Regions from separate parts of the Homo sapiens genome. Here regions 2 and 3 are each linked to region 1. Evidence: fine-mapped expression QTL. A gene starts in region 1. Each other region holds a variant in brackets. All regions are shown on one strand. Distances are between the middles of the regions. Region 1 holds the start of MIB2 (MIB E3 ubiquitin protein ligase 2). Region 2 has its middle 12 kb from the start of FNDC10. Region 3 overlaps MMP23B (matrix metallopeptidase 23B).

Region 1 (10,320 bases):
GGGGAGGCCGACGCAGCAGTCTGCTGGCGGGGGGACAAGTGAGAGGGGCACTGCTCCTTAGGGTTGCAGACCCCACCCCCTGCCAGGCCGTCCACCTCCACCAGATCCACACGCAACCTCCTCCTTGCCAGGATCCCACCAGAATCGGCCACAGCTGGAATCACACTAAGCCGGGGACTCCTCCCTGCCAAACACCTCCACTTAGCCAGAGCAGGGCTCATCACAGGCAGCCGCAGAACCGACTGGAGGTCTTTGCTAGTAGGGGACACGCATCTGCCGACCCCCGAGATGGGCCCGGCAATGGAGATGAAGGACTTGGGACCGCAAAAAAGCCAATGCCATGAGCCCACACTGTGATCCTTCTGCAGCAGGGGGCGCCTTCTGTCTCTGCGCCCAGACTCTCAGCCACAGCCAGCTTAGCCCAGGCCAGCGGCCACACCTGCCCGACCCGCTGGCCATATGCCATTGGACCTTTCCAAAAAGACAGGGGCAGGGTGCCCCATGTGTGAGCCAATGTGTCCTGTGCTTTGGCAAATCTTGCCCTTGGGGGGATGGGCAGAGGGCAGAGATGTCGGGGAGGTCACCAGCAGGGCCTCTGGGAATCAAGACCAAGCCTTGGCGGCCCCCGCGTCACAGGGGCAGTGGGGTGGAGTGCCAAGGCCATCAGCCTGAGACAGGGTAGCCTGTGCCCCAGACTGGCACCTGTCTGCAGCATGCCCGGTATTTTTAGCACAGCCAGGCAGCTCTCCAGCCCTGGCCCACAAACCCCCACCCTCCCAGAGGCTGTCCCTCATGGAAGCCCACCTGAGTTGGGGCACAACTGGGCTGAACACAGGCAGGGCTTCCTCCCTGGCCTCACTTCTTGTGCCTGGAACCAGCCCCCCACTTGCTGAGGGCTGCCCCAACAAGGGGGACGAGCCTGGACAGGGGAGCTGGGTGCGCCCACCCACTCCCACCTCTCCCCGGGGGCTGGGATGTGAGCACACAGGGGCCTGTAGACCCGGCGCCTCCTCAAGGCCTCCCCTGCAGGGCCCCCACCCCAAGGGTCTGGGGTCTGTCCCACTTCCAAGGCAGTCCCTTCTGTCCAGCATGGCACTGCCCTGGAGTGGCCGCCTCATCTGAGCGGGGTCTCCAGCCATGCCTGCCCGCCTGCCAACCCTTCTGCGGTGCCAGTGTGCAGACAGACCACATGCGCGTGGATCCCAGGCTCAGGAGCTCAGTATCCTGGACCCTCTGGAGGGGCCAGCAGTTTTGGTTTTTTTGAGACGTAATCTCGCTCTGTCGCCCAGGCTGGAGCGCAGTGGCGCAATCTCAGCTCACTGCAAGCTCCGCCTCCCAAGTTCACGCCATTCTCCTACCTCAGCCTCCCGAGTAGCTGGGACTACAGGCGTCTGCCACCACACCTGGCTCATTTTTTCTATTTTTTAGTAGAGACGGGGGTTTCACCGTGTTAGCCAGGATGGTCTCGATCTCCTGACCTCGTGATCCGCCCGCCTCGGCCTCCCAAAGTGCTGGGATTCCAGGTGTGAGCCACTGTGCCCGGCCGCCAGCAGCTTTTGAGGCTCTGCCGCCTTTCTCCTCAGCTCCTTCCTGCAGCTGCCTGCCTGGCTTTCTCACCATTGCCCCAGGGCCAGCAGTCACCCAAGACCTGCCACTGGGCTCCTGGCACCCTGGCCCCAGGGCTCAGTACCTGCCTCCGAAGGCCTCTCTAGGGGGTGTTTGTGGTGGGGGCAGGAGGCAGTAATGAGACCCCCACAGGCAGGGAGGAGGGGCACCCCGCCAGGACCCAGCACTTGTATCCCTTGGTCTCTTCTCAAAGGGGACAGAGTGCACCTGCTTAGGGGCGGGAGGATCCAGCCCAGCATCGAGGGGCCTGCCCCATTCCCATTGTTCATGAGAGGTGGGGGCTGTGGGGTCGCACAAGCAGCCTGCCCATGTCAGAGGGAAGCTTGTGGACAAAAGGGCTCATCCCTTGGGCTTCCCTGACCATCCTGTCCTCCTGGGGCCATGGGACAGGTTCTGGGCTGGGTCTGGGTCAAGCTGACCCCGAGGGTACTGGCCACAGGACCCATCCCCTGGGCAGGCCTGGGAGCAGGTGATGTGGGGCTGGCGCTTGGCACACCCGCTGCAGACCTCAGGTGAGGACTTCCTGGAGGCAGGTGAGGAACACCAGATTAGGGGTAGGAGTGGGGTGGGCAGCCTGGAAATCAAGCCCTCTAGGACAGATGTTCCCCCAAGGGCCCCTCACTCCCTCTGCCTCCACCCTGGACCTGTCCAGCATCCATTCCTTCCTGGAGAGCAGGAGGCCTCTGGGTTGCCCCCTCCTATTTTTCTGTTCTACACCCACAAGGCTCCAGGTGCAGAGGAGGGGACCCGTGGGACCTGATCACCCTGATCACCTGCCCACAGCGGGTGAGCTCTGGGCCAGAGGCTGCTATGGGAAGTGCAGATGTCCAAGGCTAGCCCTGCCCTCACACCAACCTGGCCAAGGTTTCCCAGAAAGACAAACCAGAGACAGCCACAGCCACAGCCCAGCACTGGTGGAGGGGCTCCAGGGAGCAGACCAGCAGACCAGAGCTGTGGCCACGCAGCCCCTGGTGTACATCGTGGCGTACATGGCTGTGGCCACTCCTGCTCCTCCTCTTGGAAACATACAGCCCAGGCTTCCGCTTCAGGATGCTGCCCCACAATGGGTATCTTCATCTCAGTCAGAAATTTACTCAGAGAGTTACCAAATGTTTTTTCCTTTGCCAGAAATGCTAGACTTTGCCATCTACCCACAGTTCACAGGCTGTGCCCCTGGCTGGCATCTGAACCCCGCTGCAGGCAACTGCTCCCGATGTTTAAAATGATGGAGGCAGTCAGGGTGTGAAGACTCGGGCGACAGATCGACAGATGTGCTTTGGCAAATCGGAACTTACCTCAGAGCACACACCAGCCTCGAGGCAGCGTCCCAGGCATTTAATTGCTACTTCCTGGGTCACAGATTCGCTCGGCTACCAGGCTTTCCTGTTGGAAGCTAAAGCCACTGGAGACACAACACAGCAAACCAGACGGGCAGCCAGCAAGCCAGGCTGGAGAAAATGGTTTCTAAAGGCAGTGTCACACATTTAGCATTTACCGTCTTAACCACGCAAGCAGACACCGGGTCTGTTCTATTGCTGCTTAGTTTCTCTTTTTCACAAGAAACTGCAAGCTCTCAGAGGGCAGGAGGACTTCCGAACCATCAGTCAGGAGAGTGTAGGAGGAGAGAGTTCCCTTATTGCAAGTATTTTATCGGAGAAGCTTTAAAAGCCATAGAAACCAAATCCTATTTAGCGAGAAAGTTAGCAAATTGCCTTTATTCAGAAGAAGCAAGTTACATGGAACTGGACATGAGGCTGCCCTCCTCCTTGCACCTCCAGCTGTGCCTAATGACACCGAAATGCCGCTGTGTGTGGCACGCCACAGGCCATGGAGTAGCTCCAGCTAACGCAGATGGACATCCCAGGTGCCCCAGGGAGATCAGGCCCACGGAGTGGGATGAAGCCCTGAGGCGGGGAGGCCAGCATGGAGACACCTGCTGAGGGAAAGCCCACGAGCGCTGCGGCCACCTCCAATCCTGCCCATCTGGGTGGAGACCTACAGGCACCCTGCAGGCTGGGGTGTCATCCCACTCACCGCCCAGGGCTGCCCTCGGCCAGGAGAGCGCCACATTCAGACACTTGTTGCATGTGAGGCAACAGGCCAGGGTGGAACCGGACAAAGGGGGCCTCCCGGGAAGGGCCAGGCTTGCCGGCGCTCCTGCGCTGCGGCCGCTCTGCCCCAATCCTGCAGGTGCCTATCAGAGGCCTGTCTGGCACCTCTGCTTTCTTCCTCCATGGGTTCCGAACTCAGAGAGGAGACGCGGGATTACTCACCACTCCCCTCCACTCGCATGCATGCTCAGACACAAACACAGCCTCTCTGACGTGGCTTCCACGGAGCCCCAAAGTGGGAGAGCCAAGTGCAAACTATCAGGCCGCGGACGATCAAGAGCTCACCTGTCCGGCCGTCCAGTCGCCCGCCGGGCCGCCTTGAGGCTCCTGGGCTGCAGCCCTGATGCCTGGAAACTTTGGGACTGGCCTCTAGCCTCGCTGGGCTTCCAACCCTGTGGCCGAGGGGAGATGCCAAGATGCACAGTTAGCACCTCGACCCGCGGCTCGGTCGCCTGTCTGCCCCCGGGGCTGCCCGCCGGCTCCAGGTCCACTCGGGCCCACGGCCGCGACACTCAGGGCCGCCGCCTGCCCGGATGGGCTCCCTGGGGTCTGAGCGCGCAGGAGCCGCCAGCGCCGGGCCCGTAATTGCGTGCGCCCGGGGTCTGGCGGCCGCGGCTCGCAGACGTCAGGAGGCTCCGGGACGCGCACGGGCGCCGGCGCAGGGGAACGGGCGGGCCAGGGGCGGGCACGGCGGGCACCCCCACCCGGAGCGCGCCCCGCCCCCTGTCATTCGTGCCCGTGGCTCGCGGAGGCCGCCCGGCCCTGTCCGCTGCCAGACCTTGCCAGGGCCGCGCAGTACCTGCCGACCCCAACTTGCCCGGACGTTTCCGTCCCGCCCGCTCCGCTCGGGGGCGCGGGACCGCCGGCCAGTCCGTCTGTCGGTCTGTCCCGGCGTTCGAGGCCACCCACCGGCCCCGACTGCTCAGCGGCGGCCAGGCCAGGCCAGAGCGCCTGCCGCGCGCCGCAGCCCACCCGGCCCGGACGACGACCCCAGCGCCGACCCCAGCGCCGCTGGCCCCGGGCCGCGCGAGGCCTGCCGGGAGCTGGAGTCCCGCGCGGGTGGCCGGACCACAACTCCCAGGAGGCCCCGCGGCGGCGCTGCGCGCGCAGCCCCAGCCCATCCCGTGCGGACCCTACGCCGAGTCCAGCCCGGGGCTGCTGGGCCAGCGGGAGCGGGAACCGGACGGCGCTCGCGTTCTGCCAGAGCGGAGAACGACTCGGGGACGGTGCGGAGGACCAGGGGAGGAGATCCGCGCCCGCACGCACCATCAGCCGAGAGGACGGCCCGCATCGCGCCAGTGACCTAGGAGCGACTCGGGGACGGCTTCGGGCTCCCAGGCCCTCCTGGGCCACCGGGCACTGAGGAGAGCGGCGGCTGGAAACTGTGGGACCCGAAGGGCGGGAGCCCAGGGCCCGCCCCCGCCGGAGCGCCCCCGCCATGGCCACGCCCCCGCCACGGGGATGGGCAGGGCAAGCACCGGAAGTGCGTCACGCGGGAGCGTCTGCGTCGCCTACCCTGCGTGGCGCAGCTAGGTTCCGAGCGGCTTAGCCTCCGGGCGCCTGCGCAGTGGCGGTCCTAGAGACGCACTCGGTTGCCATAGAGACGGGGGCTTGGGAGCGACGTCGCGCTCGCTGGCACTGGCGGCACTTGCCGCGCCGCAGCCACCTCTTTCCGACTCCACCAGTGCGGGCCCTATCCGGGGTTTTGAGTCACGCAGACCTGGACACAGCGAGAAACGGCAGTCCGGGCCCGTCCTCCCGCCCCGGGTTCTGCACCCCAGAGTTGGACGCTTGCTTCTCGCTTTCTCCTGAGAGAAGTCTCCGCGTTTCTGAACAATGCACTGCTAGTTTCTCATTTCTTTCTTTCTTTCTTTTTTTTTTTTTGGAGACGGAGCCTCGCCCTGTCGCCCAGGCTGGAGTGCAATGGCGCGATCTCGGCTCATTGCAACCTCCGCCTCCAGGGCTTAAACTATTCTCTTGCTTCAGCCTCCCGAGCAGCTGGGACTACAGGCATGCGCTACCACGCACAGCTAATTTTTGCATTTTTAGTCAAGACGGGGTTTCACCATTTTGGCCAGGCTGATTTCGAACTCCTGACCTCGTGATCTGCCCTCCTAGGGCTCCCAACGTGCTGGGATTATAGGCGTGAGCCACCGCGCCCGGCCTCTCATTTCTTAATTGTAGACATTGCGTACTTCCGGAGAAGGTCCCTGAGAACCTGGCTGATCTTCCCCGCTGCACCCCTCACGTGGTCCTGTTAGCTCCCAAACTGTCAACCTGAAAGGAAACCCAGAGGCAGGCTCTCCAGGACAAGTGAGTTAATCTGGGAATCGCAGGGGGTTGCAGCCTAGGCTGTTCGTGCCATGACAGATCATAGGCCTATCTGAGAGGGCCGGGCGAAGGGGAAAATACAGATGAGCTCACAAAAGTTGTTTTGTAACAAAAACCACTGGCTGTGGGCGCTTGCTGCAGGAGTGGGCGTTAGCTTGTTGTTGGAGAGAGCCTTACCAGGCCGACGTCCTTGTGCAAGCTGCTTATCTAGAATACTGCAGTCCTGAGGAATTTCCCTGCAGTAAGTCCGGTTACAGGCAAACGTGCAGGACGTGCAGGAGCGTCTTGTGAGGAGGCCTGCTGCAGGTATTCCTGCATGAGAGCTCCCCCTTCGTGGCCTCCCGACTCCATTTGTTTAGGGATTGGTGGAAGTAGTTCCATTTTGGTACCTGCAACTTTCACAGCTGTCGTGATGAAATCAGGCTTAGCTCTTCATGATTGAGTACCTGCTGTTCACTGCTACAGTATAAAACCATGCCACAATTCCTGTACAATCTTTTTTTTTCTTTTGAGTTAATAATTACCTAATATTTTCACATATCTAGCTTTTTACTAACCCATGGCCAGCCTTTTTTTCAAGTACCCCAACGTTTTCGCCACATGCCTAACGATACCGTTTTCCAAAGGCTCAAACACATCCGTTGTGTCTAACTGATTCTCCTGTTCCGACCTAGACCGATCACTTCCTGACCCGGCTGCACAGCTCTTATCTCGAGCTTTTCTCTGCTCTCATCCTTGAGACTCACTTTGTCTGTCTCCTTTCTTGGATTCCCTGTGTAAACGAAAAATAAAATCCTAAGCTCTCTACCAACTGTTTTTTGTTTTGTTTTGTATTTGAGACAGGGTCTTGCTCTGTTGCCCAGGCTGGAGTGCAGTGGCACTATCTTGGTTGACTGCAGCCTCTGCTTCCTGGATTCAAGTGATCCTCCCACCTCAGCCTCCTGAGTAGCTAGGACCACAGACATGCACCACCATGCCGGTTATTTTTAAATTTTTAGTAGAGACAGGGTGTCACCATGTTGCCCAGGCTGGTCTCAAACTCCTGGGCTATGCTGTTTGCTCACCTCTGCCTTCTGAAGTGCTGGGATTGGCTGGGTGCGATGGCTTCACGCCTGTAATCCCAGCAGTTTGGGAGGCTGAGGAGGGCAGATCACTTGAGGTCAGGAGTTCATGACCAACCTGACCAACATGGTGAAGCCCTGTCTCTACTAAAAATACAAAAATACAAAAAAAAAAAATATTAGCCAGGCATGGTGGTGCACGCCTGTAGTCCCAGCTACTTGGGAGGCTGAGGCAGGAGAATTGCTTGAGCCCAGGAGGTGGAGGTTGCAGTGAGCTGAGATCGTGACACTGCACTCCAGCCTGGGGAACAGAGCAAGAATCCGTCTCAAAAAAAAAAAAAAAAAAAGCCAGACGCGGTGGCTCATGCCTGCAATCCCAGCACTTTGGGAGGCCAAGGCAGGCAGATCATGAGGTCATAAGATCGAGACCAGCCTGGCCAACATGGTGAAACCCCGTCTCTACTAAAAATACAAAAATTAGCTGGGTGTGGTGGTGGGCACCTGTAATCCCAGCTACTTGGGAGGCTGAGCCAGGAGAATGGCTTGAACCCAGGAATCGGAGGTTACAGTGAGCCAAGATCATGCCACCGTACGCCAGCCTGGTGACAGAGGAAGACTCTGTCTCAAAAAAAAAAAAAAAGAAAAAAAACCAGCCAGGCACAGTGGCTCACGCCTGTAATCCCAACACTTTGTGAGGCCAAGGTGGGAGGATCACCTGTGGCCAGGAGTTGGAGACCAGCCTTGCCAACATGGCAAAACCCCATCTCTACTAAAAATACAAAAATTAGCCGGGCTTGGTGGTGCTCGCCTGTAGTCCCAGCTACTTGGGAGGCTGAGGTGGGAGAATTGCTTGAACCCAGGAGGCAGAGGTTGCAGTGAGCCAAGATCTGGCCACTGCACTCCAGCCTGGGTGACAGAGTGAGACTCCGTCTCAAAAACAAAAAAAACAAAAAAAAAAAAAGAAAAGAAAAAGAAAAAACAAAAGTGCTGGGATGTGAGCCACCACACCCAGCCAGCCCTCCACCAACTGAACAGATTCCCTTTTGACCAAGGGGACCCCAGAGAAATTTTTAAAACTGAGTTTCCAGCCGGGTGGATCCGCCTATAACCTATAAGCCCCCACTTCAAGATATCCCACCTTTTTAGGCCAAACCAACGTATACCTTCTATGTATGTATTTATGTCTTTGCTTATAACTCCTGCCTTTCTAAAGTGTACAAAACCAAACTAAACCGACCACTTCAGAACCACTTACTGAAGGCTTCTCGGATGTGTGTTTTCCTGGGGCCCACAGTCATTCATATTGGCTCAAAGTAAACCTTTTGAAAGTATTTTGTGAAGCTGGACATGGTGGCTCATGCCTGTAATCCCAGCCCTCTGGGAGGCTGAGGTGATTGGACCACTTGAGCCCAGGATTTAGAGACCATCCTGGGCAACATGTTGAAATCCCATCTCTACAAAATATACAAAACTTAGCTGGGTGTGGTGGCACGTGCCTATGGTTCCAGCTACTCTGGGGGCTGCGGTGGGAGGATCGTTTGAGCCTGGGAAACGGAGGCTGCAGTGAGCTGAGATCGCACCACTGCACTCTAACCTGGGCAACAGAATGAAGCCCTCTTTAAAAAAAAGAAGAGCCCGGGCGTGGTGGCTCACGCCTGTAATCCCAGCAGTTTGGGAGGCCGAGGCGGGCGGATCAGGAGGTCAGGAGTTCGAGACCAGCCTGAGGAACGTGGTGAAACCCCGTCTCTTACTAAAAACACAAAAATTACCTGGGCGTGGTGGCACACGCCTATAATCCCAGCTACTCAGGAGGCTGAGGCAGGAGAATCACTTGAATCCGGGACGCAGAGGCTGCAGTGAGCCAAGATTGCGCTGTTGCACTCCAGTCTGGGCAGCGAGAGCAAAACTCTGTCTCCAAAAAAAAAAAAAAAAAAAAAGAAGGAGGAAAGAATGTCTTATTCAGAGTTTGGCTTTTCTGTTAACAGCTGTTTCCTGGAATCTGCGTCCTCCTCCTTCTGGCTTTACTCCTTTACTTTGCTGAAGTAAGACCCCTAGTAACTTCCTGGGGAGGGCCCATGTCTGGACAGTTGCTTATTCTACTGGAAGGTTCACCAGAGCCCCTGCTTTCTCTCTGTGTCCTGCCTGAGAAGCACAGAGCCTGGCCCACTGCATGCTTTCCCTGCAGTCTTGAAGCCCGGCCAGGACCTTGAGTATTCTCAGTTACTGATGAACTAGGTTGTTGTCTGAAACACTGAGAGATCAAACATGTTGCTAAATATGTGGAAACAAGAGTCACATTTCTTAAATCCTCCTGTAAAACTCTCCACTCTAGCCCCTGGGTGCAGGCATTCCTAGGTGGAACCTCTCCATCTCTTGCTGTCAGCCCGAGGATGTGCTGCCTCCCTCTGTACATAAATTCCCCGAACAAATGCTTTGGGCCGATCACCCTGGCGTTTAGTGCTTCTTTTCTTTGGGACCAACCAGCCCCACCTCAGGATGGTTTGAGGCAGTCCCTTGTTGGAACTTGCCTGCTGCCACTTTTGGGGTGATTCTAGCTGTGGGCTGGAGGGATGAAACAGCAGCGTCGGCAGGATTCCAAAGAAATGGGCCGAGGGAACCAGAAGCAATGGGGAGACCCCCGGATGGCCACAAGATCCCTGCAGCCTGCTTGCTTCACGCCATCTCCTTGTACAGCAGCCTTAGGATTAAAACTCTCTTTCTGCTGCAACCCGTGGTGTTGGCGCAGTGACATTCCATGCATCAGGAAATGGGCCCGCTATGGCCACAACAGCAGAGAGATGACTCTCCAAAGAGTTTCTCCAGGAATGACGGGGAATTGCAGTTTGGGATATGCGTGCTATGGCAGACCACAGGCACATCCAGAGAGGCTGGGACAGGGGAAGCTTCTAAAAAAACAGAAAGGAGAAGCCCACCTAAGCTGCTTTGAAGCAAAGAGCATAGGTGACGGGGACTTTGTGTTAGTCCATTCTCACGGTCTTACGAAGAACTGCCTGAGACTGGGTAATTTATAAAGGAAAGAGGTTTACCTGACCCACAGTTCCACGTGGCTCAAGAAACTTAACAATCACAGCAGAAGGGGAAGTAAACACATCCTTCACCTGGCTGCAGGAGAGAAACCTGCTGAGCAAAGGGGAAAAGCTCCTTATAAAACTACCAGATGTCCTGAGAAC
Region 2 (10,320 bases), 27 kb after region 1:
TCTCGGCTCACTGCAATCTCCGCCTCCCAGGTTCAAGTGATTCTCCTGCCTCAGCCTCCTGAGTCGCTGGCATTACAGGCATGTGCCACACACCCTGCTAATATTGCATTTTTACTAGAGACAGGGTTGCACCATGTTGGTCAGGCTGGTCTCAAACTCCTGACCTCCAGTGATCCGGCCACCTTGGCCTCCCAAAGTGCTGGATTCCAGGAGTGAGCCAGCAGGCCCAACTGGCTCTTCTTTTTTTTCTTTTTGTTTTTTTTTTTTTTGAGATTGAGTTTTGCTCTTTTTGCCCAGGCTGGAGTGCAATGGCACCATCTCAGCTCACTGCAACCTCCACTTCCCAGGCTCAAGTGATGTGGATCATTTTTATTTTTTTTTGGAGACGAGGTCTCGCTCTGCCGCCCAGGCTGGAGTGCAATGGTGTCATCTCAGCTCACTGCAACTTCTGCCTCCCAGGTTCAAGGGATTCTTCTGTCTCAGCCTCCCGAGTAGCTGGGATTACAGGCACACGACACCACACTCGGCTAATTTTTTGTACTTTTAGTAGAGACGGGGTTTCGCCATTTTAGCCAGGATGGTCTCTATCTCCTGACCTCGTGATCCGCCCCCCTCGGCCTCCCAAAGTGCTGGGATTACAGGCGTGAGCCACTGCGCCTGGCCTTGTTTCTTTTCTTGTTTTTTTTTTTTTTTTTTTATTTAGATGGAGTCTGGCTCTGTCACCAGGCTGGAGTTCAGTGGCGCCATCTCGGCTCACTGCAAGCTCCGCCTCTCGGGTTCAAGTGATTCCCCTGCCTCAGCCTCCCGAGTAGCTGGGACTACAGGCCTGCGCCACCACGCCTGGCTAATTTTTTGTATTTTAGTAGAAATGGGGTTTCACCATGTTGGCCCAGCTAGTCTTGAACTCCTGACCTCAGGTGATCCGCCCGCCTCGGCCTCCTAAAGTGCTGGGATTACAGGTGTGAGCCACCACATTCGGCCTGTTTGTTTCATTTTCGTGTATTTATTTATTTATTTATTTATTTTGGGACAGAGTATCACTCTGTCACCCAGGCTGGAGTGCAATGGCGTGATCTTGGCTCACTGCAACCTTCACCTTCTGGGTTCATGTGATTCTCCTGCCTCAGCCTCCCGAGTAGCTAGGATTACAGGCATGCACCACCACAGCTGGCTAATTTTTGTATTTTTAGTAGAGACGGGGTTTCACCATGTTGGCCAGGCTGGTCTCCAACTCCTGACTTCAGGTGATCCACCCGCCTAGGCCTCCCAAAGTGTTGGGATTACAGGCGTGAGCCGCCGCGCCCGGCCAGCTTCTCTTGGTGATCCTTGGGTTGTAGACGCATCAGCCCAGTCTCTGCCTCCGTCCTCACAGGGTGATCTGTCTGCCTGTCTCCACCGTCACTGTGTCCAGATCTCTCTCCTTTCTTTTATAAAGATACCTGTAATATTGGGAAAAACGAAGTGCTGTTTTCCTCTTCTCTCACTCAACAGTCCACACTTCTGTGTCCCAGGAGTGTGGGGTTTCCCACACCAAGGAGTTCTGGTTTTTTTTTGAGACGGAGTCTCGCTCTGTCGCCCAGGCTGGAGGGCAGTGGCGCGATCTCTGCTCACTGCAAGCTCCGCCTCCTGGGTTCACGCCATTCTCCTGCCTCAGCCTCCTAAGTAGCTGGGACTACAGGCACCTGCCACCCGGCTAATCCAAGGATTTCAGGAGCTGTGTGTCATGAAACGGAGGAAGAGCAATGCATGTTTCCCTGTGGCACAGCACCATTGACAGCAGGAGGGCCTGCACTAACTTGACATGACCTCATTTCATTTGATTACGCCTACAAAGATCCCTATTTCCAAATAAGGTCACATTCGTAGTTAATGGGCTTCATCATATCCTGTGGAGGACACAGTAGCTACGAGTCACTGTGGACACTGTGTCTTGGGACAGCGACAACTGTTTGGGCCAGTAGCATGGGGGTAAAAGAATTTACCATCGGCCGGGCGCGGTGGCTCACGCCTGTGATCCCAGCACTTCGGGAGACCAAGGCGGGCGGATCACCTGAGGTCAGGAGTTGGAGACCAGCCTGGCCAACATGGTGAAACCCCGTCTCTACTAAAAATACAAAAATTAGCTGGGCGTGGTGGTGTGCGCCTGTAGTCCCAGCTACTCTGGAGGCTGAGGCAAGAGAATCACTTGAACCCGGGAGGCAGAGGTTGCAGTGAGCCGAGATCGCGCCATTGCACTCCAGCCTGGGTGACCAAGTGAGACTCTGTCTCAAAAAAAAAAAAATTTACCAAGACAGTTGTAGGTAGAGAAAGGCACATATGTTAGTGAAAGTAGGAAAACATGTTGCAAGGAGGCAACGGGCAGCCAGCAAGAGAGGCCAACTGCATGGAGACAAAGACTTGCTGGACGTTTTGTAGGGTGGCTCCTGGGTTGATGGCCAACGCCAAGGCAGCGGGGAGCTTCACCTGCGTTCTCCTGTCAGCCAGGGTGTTTGGTAATTTGAGGCGTTTGATGGTGAGCAGGAAGATTGTGAGTTACGTGCATTACTTGTTCAGGAGGGCCATACAGAAAGGCAGACCTACAGCCCATCTCCTTTCTGTCTTTGCTTTCCCCTGCTCCCTCCAGCCCGACTCCTTTCCCCTAATTAGGGCCCCCCACACGGGACACTTTAATTGCAGCTACTGTGACTGAGGACCTCCATTTTATATTTTAGTTAAACTTTTTTTTTTTTTGAGATGGAGTCTCGCTCTGTCGCCCAGGCTGGAGTGCAGTGGTGCGATCTCTGCTCACTGCAAGCTCCGCCTCGCAGGTTCTCGCCATTCTCCTGCCTCGACCTCCCAAGTAGCTGGGACTACAGGTGCCCACCACCACGCCCGGCTAATTTTTGTATTTTTAGTAGAGACGGGGTTTGACCATGTTAGCCAGGATGGTCTCCATCTCCTGACCTCGTGATCCGCCCGCCTGGGCCTCCCAAAGTGCTGGGATTACAGGCATGAGCCACCGTGCCTGGCCGTTAAACTTAAGTTTAAACAAATAACCTCTTATGTTCGGTGCACACTTTGTCAGACGGCACAGTTCTCAAAACTCTTTTTTTTTTTGAGATGGAGTCTCTCTCTATCACCCAGGCTGTAGTGCAGTGTCGCGATCTCCGCTCACTGCAACCTCCGCCTCCCAGGTTCAAGCGATTCTCCTGCCTCAGTCTCCCGAGTAGCTGGGATTACAGGCAGCCACCACCACGCCCAGCTAATTTTGGTATTTTTAGTAGAGACACGGTTTCACCATGTTGACCAGGCTGGTCTCGAACTCCTGACCTCAGGTGATTCACCCGCCTTGACCTCCCAAAGTGCTGGGATGACAGGCATCAGCCACCACGCCCGGCCTACGTTTCTTATTTCTAATGTAGGTGGTGCGGGTCCTTTAGACTCTGTGCTCCGCACGTGAAATACTCAGGTACACGTAGGGCAGGAGTGGGCGATGCCCTCATTTATCGCCTAGATGGCCACGCGCCCCACAAAGCCCGGCCTCCTCCTTTAGGCATCAACTCTCCCCCGATCCCTGTCACCCAAGGAAGCCCCAGGCATCCTTAAAGATTTCCAACACCTGGTTCTCAGCCTTTTTCTCTAAAATACCACAAAAGCAATGGTAGACGACTTCAGCACCCGTGAAACGGTCCCCAGCGCCCTGGTGTCTGAGTTTCTTGACCTCTTTCTGAGAAGGAGCCTGTTTTCCACCAGGGTCCATGGTCCTTCCCGTCCTAGCTTTATTAAAAGCCACCTCCTGTAATCCCAGCACTTTGGGAGGCTGAGGCAGGCGGATCATGAGGTCAGGAGATCAAGCCCATGCTGGCTAACACGGTGAAACCCCGTCTCCACTAAAAATACAAAACGTTAGCCGGATGTGGTGTCGCGCCCCTGTGGTCCCAGCTACTCGGGAGGCTGAGGCAGGAGAATGGGGTGAACCTGGGAGGGGGAGCTTGCAGTGAGCCGAGATCGCGCCACTGCACTCCAGCCTGGACGACAGAGCGAGACTCTGTCTCGAAAAAAAAAAAAAGAGGTCACCTCCACATCCTCGGTTTTCCACCCCACCACCACTTAGCTCTAGGAATAATTCTCTTTTTTTTTTTTTTTAACAGAGTCTCTCCATCCTGGCTAACATGGTAAAACCCCGTCTCTACTAAAAATGCAAAAAAAAATTAGCCTGGCGCGGTGGCGGGCGCCTGTAGTCCCAGCTACTCGGGAGGCTGAGGCAGGAGAATAGTGTGAACCTGGGAGGCGGAGCTTGCAGTGAGCCCAGATCGCACCACTGCACTCCAGCCTGGGCAACAAAGCGAGACTCCGTCTAAAAATAAATAAATAAATAAATAAATAAATAAATAAATAAATAAAAACAGTCTCGCTCTGTCACTCAAGCTGGAGTGCAGTGGTGTGATCTTGGCTCACTGCAACCTCCAGCTCCCGGGTTCACGCCATTCTCCTGTCTCAGTCTCCCAAGTAGCTGGGATTACAGGCGTCTACCACACCCAGCTAATTTTGTATTTTTAGTAGAGACGGGGTTTCTCCGTGTTGGTCAGGCTGGTCTTGAACTCCTGACTGGTGATCCACCCGCCTCTGCCTCCTAAAGTGCTGGGATTACAGACGTGAGCCACGGCGCCCTGCCTGCTCCAGGGATAATTCTTGCCTTCCACTGGGATCCCCAGCTCGGTGCACAGAGTGCTTTTTCGCGGCTGCCATCCTTCATGCCTTCATTTCTCAGCTCACCTAGTTCTGATTCAGAGTCAAAGTAGAGTCTCTGGGGTTGAAAAACGGGGGAAGGGAAGGGAAGAAGGGAAGCGAAGCAAAACGGGAGGCCACCGTGACACACAGAGCTAAGGAAGGCCATGAAAGGGGGTCTCAGGCCTGCATGCCTCAAAACTATCACAAAGGATTCCAAAAACCGCATACTTGCACAAAGTCCACTGTAACCTTGCACACACACAGAAATACTTCTGTGAGGACATCCGCCCAGGACTGCCTGTCCACCCTCAGATGGTTGTCATCCTTGTTATTGATCTTTGTAGCCAAGGATAATTCTTTCTTTTTTTTTTTCTTTTTTTTTGAGACAGAGTCTCGCTCTGTTGCCCAGGCTGGAGTGCAGTGGCGCGATCTGGGCTCACTGCAAGCTCTGCCTCCTGGGTTCACACCATTCTCCTGCCTCAGCCTCCCGAGTAGCTGGGACTACAGGCGCCTGCCACCGCGCCAGGCTAATTTTTTTTTTGCATTTTTAGTAGAGACGGGGTTTCACCATGTTAGCCAGGATGGAGAGACTCTGTTAAAAAAAAAAAAAAAAGGAATTATTCCTGGAGCTAAGTGGTGGTGGGGTGGAAAACCGAGGATGTGGAGGTGGCCTCTTTTTTTTTTTTTTTTTTGAGACGGAGTCTCGCTCCGTCGCCCAGGCTGGAGTGCAGTGGCGCAATCTCGGCTCACTGCAACCTCCACCTCCCGGGTTCACGCCATTCTCCTGCCTCAGCCTCCGGAGTCGCTGGGACTACAGGCCCCCGCCACCACACCCAGCTAATTTTTTGTATTTTTAGTAGAGACGGGTTTCACCGTGTTAGCTGGGATGGTCTTGATCTCCTGACCTCGTGATCCGCCCGCCTCGGCCTCCCAAAGTGCAGCCAAGGATAATTATTTCAAAACAATGAAGTCATCCTTCTCATCTTTCCTTTAAAAACCTTTGTCTTTGGCTGGGCGCGGTGGCCCACGCCTGTAATCCCAGCACGTAGGGAGGCCAAGGTGGGCAGGATCACAAGGTCAGGAGTTCAAGAACAGCCTGACCAATATGGTGAAACCCCGTCTCTACTAAAAAATACAAAAATTAGGCCTGGTGCAGTGGCTCACGCCTGTAATCCCAGCACTTTGGGAGGCCGAGGCGGGCGGATCACGAGGTCAGGAGACTGAGACCATCCTGGCTAACACAGTGTAACCCCATCTTTACCAAAAATACAAAAAATTAGCCGGGCGTGGTGGCGGGCGCCTGTAGTCCCAGCTACTCGGGAGGCTGAGGCAGGAGAATGGCGTGAACCCGGGAGGCGGAGCTTGCAGTGAGCCGAGATCACACCACTGC[A/T]CTCCAGCCTGGGCGACGGAGCGAGACTCCGTCTCAAAAAAAAAAATCCCAAAATTAGATGGGCGTGGTGGCCGGTGCCTGTAGTCGCAGCTACTCAGGAGGCTGAGGCAGGAGAATCGCTTGAACCAAGAAGGGGCAGTTGCAGTGAGCAAGCTTGCGCAACTGCACTCCAGCCTGGTGACAGAGCTGTGAGACTTCAACTCAAAAAAAAAAAAAAAAAACCAGCAGGGCGTAGTGGCCCACGCCTGTAATCCCAACACTTTGGATGGCAGAGACGGGCGGATTGCCTGAGCTCCAGAGTTCGAGACCAGCCTGGGCAACACGGTGAAACGCTGTATTTACTAAAATACAAAAAATTAGCCGGGTGTGGTGGCAGGCTCCTGTAATCCCAGCTACTCGGGAGGCTGAGGCAGAATTGTTTGAACCCGGGAGACGGAGGTTGCAGTGAGCCGAGATCGCACCACTGCACTCCAGCCTGAGCGACAAAACGAGCCTTCGTCTCAAAAAAACAAAACAAAACAAACAAAAAAACCAAAAAAAACCTTTGTCTTCTTCTACCTCCCTGAATATGCACATACTTTACTGTGGCACACGCGTTCCCATTGCAATCCTATTCCTGAATAAATATTTTACTTTTTTACTTTTGGTGGAGAAGAGTTTATTTAAGGCCGGGCGTGGTGGCTCACGCCTGTAATCCCAGCACTTTGGGAGGCTGAGGCGGGCGGATCACGAGGTCAGGAAATCGAGACCATCCTGGCTAACACGGTGAAACCCCGTCTCTACTAAAAATACAAAAAATTAGCCGGGCGCGGTGGCAGGCGCCTGTAGTCCCAGGTCCCAGCTACTTGGAAGGTTGAGGCAGGAGAATGGCATGAACCCGGGAGGCGGAGCTTGCAGTGAGCCAAGATCGCGCCACTGCACTCCAGCCTGGGTGACAGAGTGAGACCTCGTCCCAAAAAAGAAAAAGAAGAGTTTATTTAATGTGAGAACAGCATCCTCCCGGTGAGTGTTGAGCTCTTGGCAGACAGGAGGCTGGAGAGGGCGGCTCCTCTCCACAGGAAGTCGTTTGGATGTCTCCGCAGGTCTCAGGCTCTCCACAGACAGGGTAGAGGTAGCTCCTCTCTGCTGACAGGTTGTCTGGGCAGCTCTCAGCGGAGGACAGAGGAGAAGGTACTCCTCTCTGCAGCTGGTCATCCTGGTCGCCTCCCTGCCCTCTTCCTCTTCTGGCTGTCCTCTTCGAATAAATATCATTTTCTGCTAGAGAACCCCTCTCTGTTATTTAGTTTGACATAAATGATGCTCTGAAACAGGACCTGAAGGAAGGTCACTTTAAGAAGGAACTGGCGGTTCTTGGAGCCAGTGCCCCATGCTCGCCGAGCCCTATGGGCTCTCTGCTTCCGTGGTTCGCATGCTCTGCCTTGGAGAATCTTCTGTGGCTGTGCTTCCCTCTTTTTAAAATTGCATTTTATTATTATTATTATTATTATTATTATTTAAGACATGGTCTCTCTGTGTTGCCCAGGCTGGAGTGGAGTGGCACAGTGTTGGCTCACTGAAGCCTCAACATCCCAGGCTCAAGCGATTCTCCCACCTCAGCCTCCTCAGTAGCTGGGACCACAGGCTGGTTCTACTATGTCCAGATAATTTTTGTTTGCTTGTTTGTTTTTAAAAAAAGAGTCTTGGCTGGGCGCGGTATCTCACACCTGTAATGCCAGCACTTTGGGAGGCCGAGGCAGGTGGATCACGAGGTCAGAAGTTCGAGACCATCCTGGCTAACACGGTGAAACCCTGTCTCTACTAAAAATACAAAAAATTAGCCGGGCGTGGTGGCGGGTGCCTGTAGTCCCAGCTATTTGGGAGGCTGAGGCAGGAGAATGGCGTGAACCTGGGAGGCAGAGCTTGCAGTGAGCTGAGATTGCGCCATTGCACTCCAGCCTGGGCGACACAGCGAGACTCCATCTCAAAAAAAAAATTAGCCAGGCGTGGTGGCGGGCACTTGTAGTCCCAGCTACTTGGGAGGCTGAGGCAGAAGAATGGCATGAACCCGGGAGGTGAAGCTTGCAGTGAGCCGAGATTGCACCACTGCACTCCAGCCTGGGCAATAGAGCAAGACTCCGTCTCAAAACAAACAAACAAACAAATAAACAAACAAAAAAAGTTAGCTGGACATGGTGGCATGCACCTGTAATCCCAGCTAGTCTAGAGGCTGAGGCAGGAGAATCGCTTGAACTCACAAGGCAGAGGTTGCAGTGAGCCAAGATTGCACCGCTGCACTCCAGCCTGGACTGCAGAGTGAGATTCTGTTTCAAAAGAAAACAAAACAACAACGAAAGTTACTGGGTCTGTCGCCACCATCTGAAACAGTGGTCCATGTGCTTGACAATTCCTGATAGGATCTATGGAAGCTTCTTTGCTCTTCAGAAAATAAGAAGAAATGAAATGGGATTCTCAAACATTAAGTCACAGCAGATTTTTTGGTTCTCCAGCAGGCTATATTATGGCCCAACTTGGGCAAACTGTACTTATTTATCTTTCTTTTTAATTTTTCTCAGCTTCTGTTCTGCTCTAACTCAGGCACATTTTAAAACTGATGGGTGGCCAGGCACGGTGGCTCACGCCTGTAATCCCAACACTTTGGGAGGCTAAAGTGGGAGGATCACGAGGTCAGGAGTTCGAGACCAGCCTGGCCAACATGGTGAAACCCCGTCTCTACTAAAAATACAAAAAATTAGCCAGGCGTGGTGGCACACGCCTGTAATTGCAACTACTCAGGAGGCTGAGGCAAGAAAATTGCTTGAACCCGGGACGCAGAGGTTGCACTGAGCCAAGATCATGCCACTGCACTCCAGCCTGGTCGACACAGCAAGGCGCTGTCTCAAAAACAAAAACAAAAACAAAAAAACCCCAAAACTGGCCGGGCACGGTGGCTCACGCCTGTAATCCTGGCACTTTGGGAGGCTGAGGTGGGTGGATCACAAGGTCAGGAGACTGAGACCATCCTGGCTAATCGGTGAAATCCCGTCTCTACTAAAAATACAAAAAATTAGCCGGGTGTGGTGGTGGGTGCCTGTAGTCCCAGTTACTCGGGAGGCTGAGGCAGGAGAATGGTGTGAACCTGGGAGATGGAGCTTGCAGTAAGCTGAGATTGCGCCACTGCACTCCAGCCTGGGCCACAGCGAGACTCCGTCTCAAAAAAAAAAAAAAAAAATTAATTGGCGGGCGCGGTGGCTCACGCCTGTAATCCCAGCACTTTGGGAGGCCGAGGCGGGCGGATCATCTGAGGTCTGGAGTCTGAGACCAGCCTGACCAACATGGAGAAACCCCATCTCTACTAAAAATACAAAATTAATGGCGCATGCCTGTAATCCCAGCTACTCGGGAGGCTGAAGCAGAAGAATTGCTTGAACCCGGGAGACAGAGGTTGTGGTGAGCTGAGATCATGCCATTGCACTCCAGCCTGGGCAACAAGAGCAAAACTCCATCTCAAAAAAAAAAAAAAAATTTTTATGCTTTGGGGCAGTGGCAGTGGTAACGGGGCTGTGTGCAGGAGGAGCATCGATCGGGCAGGGTGGATGTGGGCTGGGGCAGCCCCGGGTCCCAGGCCCTGCAACGGTGTGCAGGGCGGGAGTGCCCAGTCGGGCTGCATTCCCAGGTGCACGGCGTGCCACTGAGCTGCTCACGTAGCTGCCACCATCTGTGCTGGGCCCAGCCGAGACGCAGAACCTCGTGGACATGACCTAGGAAGACCCAGACAGTGTGCCCCACGGATGTCCTGGATCAAAGGGACCCAGGTTGGTGATTACTTCTACTCCTTTGGCGGCTGTTATTGGCACGCAGCCTACCGGTAGCTGCAGCAAGGGCCATCCTGGACAAGCTTGTGCAGTCCACCCTCTCGGACCTCAGGGTGTACCTGGGGGCATCCACGCCAGACTTGTAGGAGCAGTCCCCATGGCACCGACTGACACTTCTAAGAGCCCAGAAGATACATCTGGCCCCCGTAGGCTGGGCTGGCAGAAGGGATAGCTGAGATGCGTTCTCTTTGCACTTGGTGGGGAGGGTCTGACTCGAGACACTTCCCCAACAGTAGGGAATAAAATTGTCATGGTTGAATAGACCGATTGTGGATTGTGTTCCATCTACTGAGACTGGCACACTGCCTCCTGAAATGAAAGTGGATCTCATCACCAGAGGAGAAATGAGGAACTGCGTATCAGCTAGCC
Region 3 (8,549 bases), 21 kb before region 1:
GTGAAGATGAAGAACGAGAAAATGAAAACCACCTCTTGGTTGGTAAGAACCTCCCTGGAGACAGAGCCCCCTCCTTGTCTGTCTCCGAGTGCAGCAGCCCTCTCCTAAGACAGCCGGTCCTGCGCAGCGTGGGGCACGCCAGGGTCTGGGAGGCCGCCTGATTCGTTGGCCGCTCCAGGCTGTGCCGGTGGGGCCCGCATTCCTCAGCGAGGCACAGTGCTGACCAAGGGCGTCCTGAGTGCCCAGCAGGGCCGAGGAGCTGGGAAGCCCAGGACCAGTTCCCCACAGGGGAGGCCCGTCAGATGGTGGCTCCGGGCCTGTCCCTGCAGAGCAGAGGCCTGGCCCAGCCTCCGACAGGCAGTGAGGTTATGTCCTCAGCCTGGTGGACGTGGATGTGGGCTTGTCCCCCACATGACACCCGACGCCTCCTCCCAGCTCAGCATCCGGGCTCTGTCTCAGCCGAGCCTGCCAGCACTCTTAGGCCTCGGTGCCCTGTGTCCAGGGGACGAGAGCCCAGCGCCAGCACCTCCCAGCGGGACACGGGGCAGCCCTGCCACGCGCTTGATGCCCCCGGGGCAGGAGGAGGTTCATGATCCTTGCTTACTCCTAGCTTCGTAATTAGGTTCAACTTTTCCAGTTCCAGAGTCACGGTTCGACCGAGATTCCGGGGAGAGTGAAGAAGCAGAGGAAGAAGTGGGTGAGGGAACGCCGCAGAGCAGCGCCCTGACAGAGGGCGACTATGTGCCCGACTCCCCTGCCCTGTCGCCCATCGAGCTCAAGCAGGAGCTGCCCAAGTACCTGCCGGCCCTGCAGGTCAGGCCCTCCCCTCGCCCCGGGCCACTGTCCGCATTGGCAGTCGGAGTTACCACAGGGGCTGAGCGAAGCCTGGCCCCCGTGTTGGCGTCTGTCGCCTCACAGGGCTGCTGGGCCCACTGGGGCAGTGACGGGCGGGCACAGCCACTGGCCCCTCATGCTTCTAGGTCCCGCCTCTTTCTCATGCTGGACGGAACTGGGTGGACAGGGAGCTGCCCGCAGGACTGCTCTGCGGCTTGAAAGGCAGCCTGGGCGTGCGGCCGCGCTGCTGTCACTGCTGCCCGAGTTGCGTCCTCCTCCGCACTGGAGAGCAGTGCCTTCCACTTGACCCCTGCGTGGGCGGGTTATGTAGGCACCAAGGCCTTGTTACCGGCATCTGTGCAGGGCTTGGATGGGGGAGCGGCTACGGGAGTCAGTGTAGATGTGTGACCAGAAGCCTTTTGCTTAGGCAGCTATCAATAAGGCAGGATATTGTTGGGAGCGATTTGGAAGGGACAAGCCTGAGAAGGTGCCAGTGGCCTCTGGGGCCTGGGAGACCGGCAGGGACTCGGCCCCCTCCTTGGTGCCTGTGGGCGGAGAGGTTCTCTCTGGCGCATGCAGCAGGCCTCTGTCGACTGCCCTATGCCTTGTGAGCGCCTCTGCCCCTTAGTGCTGCTGAGCGTAGGCGTCGGGCCACAGGCCACCCCGAGTACATGACATCCGGCCTGGGCACCGGCCCCAAGGTACACGGAGGGGTAGGTGCCCTGGCATGGGGCATCATGCTGCGCCTGGCAGGTAGGGCCCGTCCTCAGTGTCATCCTGGTACAAGCAGGGGACACATCCAGTTTGACAAAGAGACTCTTGGGATGGCTTTTTTTTTGGAGACTGGGTCTGTCTCTGTCACCCAGGCCGGAGTGGAGTGGCTTAATCATAGCTCACTGGAGCCTCCCCCTCCCAGGCTCAAACAATCCTCCCATTTCAGCCTCCTGAGTAGCTGGAACTACAGGCGCAAGCCACCATGCCTGGCTAATTTTTTTATTTTGTAGAAAGGAGTTTTGACCGGGCACAGTGGCTCACACCTGTAATCCCAGCACTTTTGGAGGCCGAGGCGGTGGGCGGATCAGAGGTCAGGAGTTCGAGACCAGCCTGGCCAATATGGTGAAATCCTGTCTCTACTAAAAATACAAAAATTAGCCTGGCGTGGTGGTGCGTACCTATACTCCCAGCTACTAGGGAGGCTGAGGCAGGAGAATCGCCTGAACCCAGGAGGTGGAGGTTGCAGTGAGCCGAGATCTCACCATTGCACTCCAGCCTGGGTGACAGAGCGAGACTCCGTCTCAAAAAAAAAAAAAAAAAAAAATAGAAAACAGAGTGTTGCTATGTTGGCCGGGCTGGTCTTGAACTCCTGGGCTCAAGCAGTCCTCCTGCCTTGCCCTCCCAAAGTGCTGGAATTACAGGCCTGAGCCCTTGCACCTGGCTGGGATGGCCTTTTGTTCACACTGGTTTTGTTTCATAATAAAGTGTCAGATGGTTTTGCAAGGAAAGAGACTTTGAAAGAACTGAGCTGCTCCCGGCTCCACCCCCGGCCCAGTCCCAAGGCTCTGCCCTGCACCTGCCCCGTGCCGGGTGTGCCGTGCCTGTGGACGCAGCCGCCCTCCCTCCAGCTGGCATGGCCACTGAGACCTCACACAGGCGCTTCCTTCCCAGGGCTGCCGGAGCGTCGAGGAGTTCCAGTGCCTGAACAGGATCGAGGAGGGCACCTATGGAGTGGTCTACAGAGCAAAAGACAAGAAAACAGGTGGGTGGGGTCCCCTCACCCCACAAAGGCAGGGGAAGTGGGGCAGGGGCTGGCTGCCCGAGAGCTGCGACTGCACCTGGGCCCGCCTCACCTGAGCAGCTACTGGAGGTTGGACCCCTCAGCACCTCTAGAAGCCAGAGGTCAGCCTGGCCCTGGGGCTTTGCCACTCCCTTGCAGTAGCAGGCGGCCTGCCCCACAGGGCCGAGGCCCAGCGCGTGGAGTGGTCTGTGCCGGGGCTGGTGTGCAGGTTTGCGTTCCCAGCGTCCCACCCAAGCAGGTGTGTGAGCCGGGAACTCTGTTGGGAGTCGGCCACTGGGATCCCAGGTGAGGCCGGCTCTGTTGGGGAAGTCGATGTGGAGTCGGCGTGGCCGCTGGGATCCCAGGTGGCTGTAGGTGGCTGTGAGTGTCTGTGGTGTGTTGAGTGGGAAGCCGTGGGTGTTGCCCAGACCTCAGCTGGGGCGTTCTCCTGGTGCCCACGTGCCCCCACCTAGAACGAGACCCCCCTCCGTGAAATGCTGGCGCTTTGGGCACTGCCTGCGGTCCTCACTGAACGAGTCCACTGTTGGTACCGTGACTTTGAGAATGCCTCTCAGTGCCGTCTGTATTTTCTTCACAGATGAAATTGTGGCTCTAAAGCGGCTGAAGATGGAGAAGGAGAAGGAGGGCTTCCCGATCACGTCGCTGAGGGAGATCAACACCATCCTCAAGGCCCAGCATCCCAACATCGTCACCGTTAGAGTGAGCATGGCCCCACCACGCCTGGCCCCGGGTGGAAGGCTTTTCTGACAGGGCCCCGTGCTGTCCTGGGGCCGGGTGCTTCCTACACTCTCCTGCACTTAGTGGAGCCCTTCACAGACCACACAGAAGCAAGCATTTGCCTCCCGGGTGGCACCGGAGGTCCTTACTGTCCCTCAGCAGCTGCACCCGGGTGCAGGGGTGGGTGGGGGCCTGGAGGTGCCCAGCACCCACAGAGCCGTGCCCTGCAGGAGATTGTGGTGGGCAGCAACATGGACAAGATCTACATCGTGATGAACTATGTGGAGCACGACCTCAAGAGCCTGATGGAGACCATGAAACAGCCCTTCCTGCCAGGTACAGCCGCGCCCCAGGGGCCTGTCTGCGTACAAGTGGGGGCAGGGTCCTGGTCACCCCCGCGGTGACAGTGCTGCAGGGAGGGCCAGCTGCATCCACAGGGAAAGCCCTGAGAAGCCTCTGTTGCTGCCGAGGCGAGTGGGCCACCCTGAGTGCCCTGGGCTGGGGGCAGCCAGGTCCACATGGGAGCTTCCCTCCCTCCCAGGGGAGGTGAAGACCCTGATGATCCAGCTGCTGCGTGGGGTGAAACACCTGCACGACAACTGGATCCTGCACCGTGACCTCAAGACGTCCAACCTGCTGCTGAGCCACGCCGGCATCCTCAAGGTGAGCCCCCCTCCGAGTGGCCCATCCCAGGGAGACCTGCCGGGGCCCACTCACAGCCGCCCATCTGTCGTTGCAGGTGGGTGACTTCGGGCTGGCGCGGGAGTACGGATCCCCTCTGAAGGCCTACACCCCGGTCGTGGTGACCCTGTGGTACCGCGCCCCAGAGCTGCTGCTTGGTGCCAAGGTGAGTCCTGGGCGTCTGAGTGCCTCCCCTGTCCCCCACGCAGCCTCCCACAGCTTCGCGGGCACTGGCCCTCCTGAACACCTCTCCTGACCTCTTAGGAATACTCCACGGCCGTGGACATGTGGTCAGTGGGTTGCATCTTCGGGGAGCTGCTGACTCAGAAGCCTCTGTTCCCCGGGAAGTCAGAAATCGATCAGATCAACAAGGTGTTCAAGGTGGGTCTGGCCCTGCTGCAGGTGCGCTGTGGGGTTGTGGAGGAGTTGCAGGAATGGGGCTGCGGGGCGCACAGGTGCTGGGTTGAGATGGGGACCAGGGCCACTGAGAGCCCTCCTGGTGGCTTGTCTTCTCTGACGGGACACAGGTGCCAACACTGTGGGCCACTTGGTGTGGCTGTTGAAGCACCTCTGTCTTTCAGGATCTGGGGACCCCTAGTGAGAAAATCTGGCCCGGCTACAGCGAGCTCCCAGCAGTCAAGAAGATGACCTTCAGCGAGCACCCCTACAACAACCTCCGCAAGCGCTTCGGGGCTCTGCTCTCAGACCAGGGCTTCGACCTCATGAACAAGTGAGCCCAGTGCAGCCGGGTGGCGGGAGGTCCCGAGCCATAGCGGTGACTTCC[C/A]AGTCCCAGGCCTACCTGCTGGCTCACCACGTTCCAGAACTGCTCTGGTGCCTGGCGTCCCATGCCCTGAGCCCCGTCCCAACACAGCCCATCTTTGGGGGACCCAGTGGAGCACACGAGCACCTCCTGGGCCTCTGGCCCTCTCCCCCCAGGTTCCTGACCTACTTCCCCGGGAGGAGGATCAGCGCTGAGGACGGCCTCAAGCATGAGTATTTCCGCGAGACCCCCCTCCCCATCGACCCCTCCATGTTCCCCACGTGGCCCGCCAAGAGCGAGCAGCAGCGTGTGAAGCGGGGCACCAGCCCGAGGCCCCCTGAGGGAGGCCTGGGCTACAGCCAGCTGGTGAGGGGCCTGGCGGGTGGGGCGTGCCCACAGGTGGGGCTGGCTTGGGCAGGGTTCTCACGGTAGCCGACTCGTCCCAGGGTGACGACGACCTGAAGGAGACGGGCTTCCACCTTACCACCACGAACCAGGGGGCCTCTGCCGCGGGCCCCGGCTTCAGCCTCAAGTTCTGAAGGTCAGAGTGGACCCCGTCATGGGGAGAACTCAGCCGGGACCACAGGCGTGGCTACTGCGGCTGGAGCTGCGATGAGACTCGGAACTCCTCGTCTTACTTTGTGCTCCATGTTTTGTTTTTGTATTTTGGTTTGTAAATTTGTAGAATTAAATCATTTTCCTTGTTGTGGAGGAAAGAGCTGTGTTTTCTCCGTGACTTGCCCAGGGCGGAGAGGGTGGACATCTTCGGGTGCCCACGTGGGGCAGCACAAACCTCCACACACCCTCTCCCACTCTCGACACGCACGGGGCTGGCTGGGCCGTGATTTGGAAAGGAACTGGTGGGAGCCGGGTGGATTGTTTAATCTTCGGAGCTGGAGACCTGTTTCTGTGTTGGGATGAGCGATGCCCTCTTGCCCCAACCCACTCGTCCAGACCAGCCCTGTCCACACAGGCCCCCGGCCCCCAACCCCCAGCCCCAGCTGTGCCAGCAGACTCGACAGGTTTTTATACAAGGTTGTTGAGTTTTAAAATGTATTAAAATATTCTTCGAGGAAAGCTCCCCGTGTCGTCCTTTGAGTGACCCGGGACCATGTGTGGGAGGGGAGTCGCAGACCACCGGGCTCTAGGGGAAGAGGGTGGGGTGGGCGGCTGTGGCCTCTGACCCCATGTGGGCCAGTGTCTTCCCCAGGCAGGAGGGGAGCTCCTACCTCCTGGGGGGCCTCCACTCTGGCAAGGTGGTCCCCCACCCTGTGCCAGTCCTCCCAGCCCCCACCCACATCTCCTTGCAGAAGATCCTGGAGGCCCATCCCAGCCACATCTTTCAGGAAGCCCCCTTTGCCTCCCTCCCCCAGCTCTGAGCAAGTCCTAGACAGAACCCAGGCTTCTGGGGCTACCCCAGGTGCTGCTCCACGTGCTGCCCCTGTCACTGGGGCCTCCGCTTATCCCACTTTCCCAGGGGCCACCTTAGCAAAGCCCGTCCCGTCCTGTGCTGTACCTGTTGTCCGCTGTGCGGGGAAGCAGGGGTGCCCAGCCCCGAGGACGCCCAGCTCTCGGTGGACCAGGGGCTGGGGTGTCCACCTGCCCAGACTGGCTGCCCGCTGCCCTCCCAAGAATGAGCGAGGAGCCATCAGAGAGAAAGTGCTTTATCAGCCGGGCTCAGCCCCGCACACGGACTCGCCAGGAGTAGGTGGTCAGCACGCGCTGCTGGCGGCGCACCACGCAGGTGTAGGTGCCCTCATTGACGGCGTTGGCGATGATGCTCAGGTGCGCCTCGCCCAGGGCCAGGTAGCCGGGGTAGGAGAACTCCAGGGGCTCCTGGTCCTTGTACCAGCTGCAGGGGGGCGGGGCGTCTCCTGCAGGCACAGCCCCCCCCCCGGCTGCCTGCCCCGCACCCCTGCCCCAAGGCCGCCCGCGGGCTGCCCACCCCGAGGACCGCCCGGGGCGCTCACTCACTACACTTTCCCTTTCTTGTGGAGGATCTTCTGGCCGCAGCGGAAGGTCACGTTCCTGCCCTCGGGCACCAGCCTGGTTTTGGTCCTGGGGGGCGGTGGGGTGGTGGCCACCGTGGGGAAGGGGAATTCTGCTCCGGGTGGGGGAAAGAGCCCCGTCAGTGCCCCCTCAGCCCCGACCATGGCCAAGGCCCAGCTCCCACGCAGCCCTGTCCCGGCCCCGTGGGCATCACCGTAGCAGAAGTCGCAGCTGCTGGGGCAGAGCCTCTTCATGAGCCGCCGGCGAGCGTCGCAGAAGCCCCTCCGCGCCCAGGACGCGCACACGAACAGCCTGTCGAGGCATCCTATCGGGAGCGTGGGGAGCACGGCCTGGCTCAGGACCGCCCGGTCCCCGCCCTCCCGCCCGACAAAGGGACTCACCGTAGAGCCGGTGCAGCCCCCACAGCTCGTCCTGGGACAACGCCTTCCAGCCGCGCAGCGTGGCGTTCAGGTGCATGAGCGCCCGGCCGTGTTGTGAGTGCATCAGGCCCAGCGCGTGGCCGATCTCGTGGGCCGCCACGTGCACCAGGTCCGTGAGCCACACGCCTGCGGGCCCCGGGGGTCAGCGCCTGGGAGCCCCGGGCCCAGCCCCGCCGCCCGTGGGCCAGCTCCCCGAGGCCCGGTGTATCTGCTGGAGCGCAGCCGCGGAGCCGCCCTCGGCCGCAGCCACGGAAAGATAAGAATGTTCTGGGCCCAGGCGGTGAGCTCGGCCCCCAGGAATGCAGCTCCAGCTCCCGCTCCAGAGGCGCAGGGGGATGGGAAAGGGAGTTCAGGGCTGCCGGGATGGGGGCTCCCACGGGCTCCCCTCCTTGCCTGCTAGACTCCAGTGGCAGCCACCACCCCGGAAGGTCCCTCCTGCCGTCTGCCCCAAAGCCCGACCGCGGCAGCCCACTGTGCTGCAGAGGAGAGGCCTCCAGGAGGCCAGCCTGGACGGTCACCTTTCTTCCAGCTGTAGCGCGTGGGGCCCAGGACCCAGTACTCGCTGTCGTCGAAGTGGATGCCGCCGTGCGGGGGGAAGAAGGCGTGGGCCAGCTCCCCCGTGGGGCCGTCGAAGCAGTGGTGCAGCGCGGAGACCAGGCAGTCCGTGTGGTTGATCGGGTAGAAGCCTGGGGGGAGCACGGGGCTGAGAGGCCGGGCGCGCAGGGCCGGGCCGGGGCGGGGGCGGGCGCCCACCTATCCGGAGGTCGCTGGGCTGCTCGGGGGCCACCTCGCGGAAGCTGAAGGGGGACACGTCGCTCCACATGCGGAAGGCGGCAGCTAGGGCCCGCCGCGTCTCCCGCGGGCTCAGCAGGTTCCGCGGGAAGGAGAGGATCCTGCAGGGAGAGTGAGCTCAGCGGGCGCCGGCCGCGCCCCCTCCCCCGGGGCCCAGCCAGGGCGCACCTGTAGGTGAGGTTGAAGTGGTCCCAGCGCAGCCTGGCTGGAGTCAGCGTGTAGCGGCGTCTGCGGGGGGCCAGTGGGCCCGGGACCCGGGTGGGGGGGACCGCCGAGAGGCCCAGCGCAGCGACGTCTCCCTTCAGGGAAGAAAGCGTGCGTGGGAGGCATCGGTGACGGTCCCCAGGACCAAAAACTGCCGCGGAAAATGGACTGGAAGGAAACGGGGGTGGGGGTGCCCAGGGCTGGGAGCGGGCGTGGCGGGTCCTGTCTGCCTGTGGTTTCGGGTCTCCTAACCTGAGCGCCCTGTTGCACGTCCCTGGGAACGCGGCCCAGTGGAGGGGAAGGGGCTGAACAGCAGGGCGAGGCCTCCCACCCCTCC

The links. PIP is the estimated chance that this variant, and not a neighbour inherited with it, causes the effect.
Region 2: its variant is fine-mapped to the expression of MIB2 in whole blood (TOPMed, PIP above 0.99).
Region 3: its variant is fine-mapped to the expression of MIB2 in whole blood (INTERVAL, PIP above 0.99).

The regions. Positions count from the first base shown.
Region 1 is chr1:1,610,317-1,620,636 of GRCh38, reverse strand. It overlaps MIB2 (MIB E3 ubiquitin protein ligase 2), which reads right to left and starts at 5,137. Exons shown (of 20, transcript NM_001170687.4): 1 at 5,004-5,137; 2 at 4,023-4,129. RefSeq lists silencers at 4,203-4,292, 4,323-5,372 and an enhancer at 5,473-5,642.
Region 2 is chr1:1,583,224-1,593,543 of GRCh38, reverse strand. No RefSeq gene overlaps it. Among named protein-coding and RNA genes, the nearest start is that of FNDC10, 12 kb to the left of the region's middle. The variant A/T (reference allele first, on the strand shown) is at 6,101.
Region 3 is chr1:1,632,541-1,641,089 of GRCh38, reverse strand. MMP23B (matrix metallopeptidase 23B) reads right to left here. Exons shown (of 8, transcript NM_006983.2): 2 at 8,177-8,307; 3 at 7,970-8,109; 4 at 7,735-7,902; 5 at 7,178-7,342; 6 at 6,991-7,101; 7 at 6,762-6,888; 8 at 6,436-6,639. The coding sequence ends at 6,465. It overlaps CDK11B (cyclin dependent kinase 11B), which reads left to right. Exons shown (of 20, transcript NM_033486.3): 10 at 1-42; 11 at 638-813; 12 at 2,500-2,590; 13 at 3,207-3,328; 14 at 3,577-3,682; 15 at 3,888-4,009; 16 at 4,086-4,193; 17 at 4,292-4,408; 18 at 4,609-4,757; 19 at 4,964-5,153; 20 at 5,234-5,865. The coding sequence ends at 5,326. Among named protein-coding and RNA genes, the nearest start is that of MMP23B, 4.6 kb to the right of the region's middle. RefSeq lists an enhancer at 7,399-8,210. The variant C/A (reference allele first, on the strand shown) is at 4,812.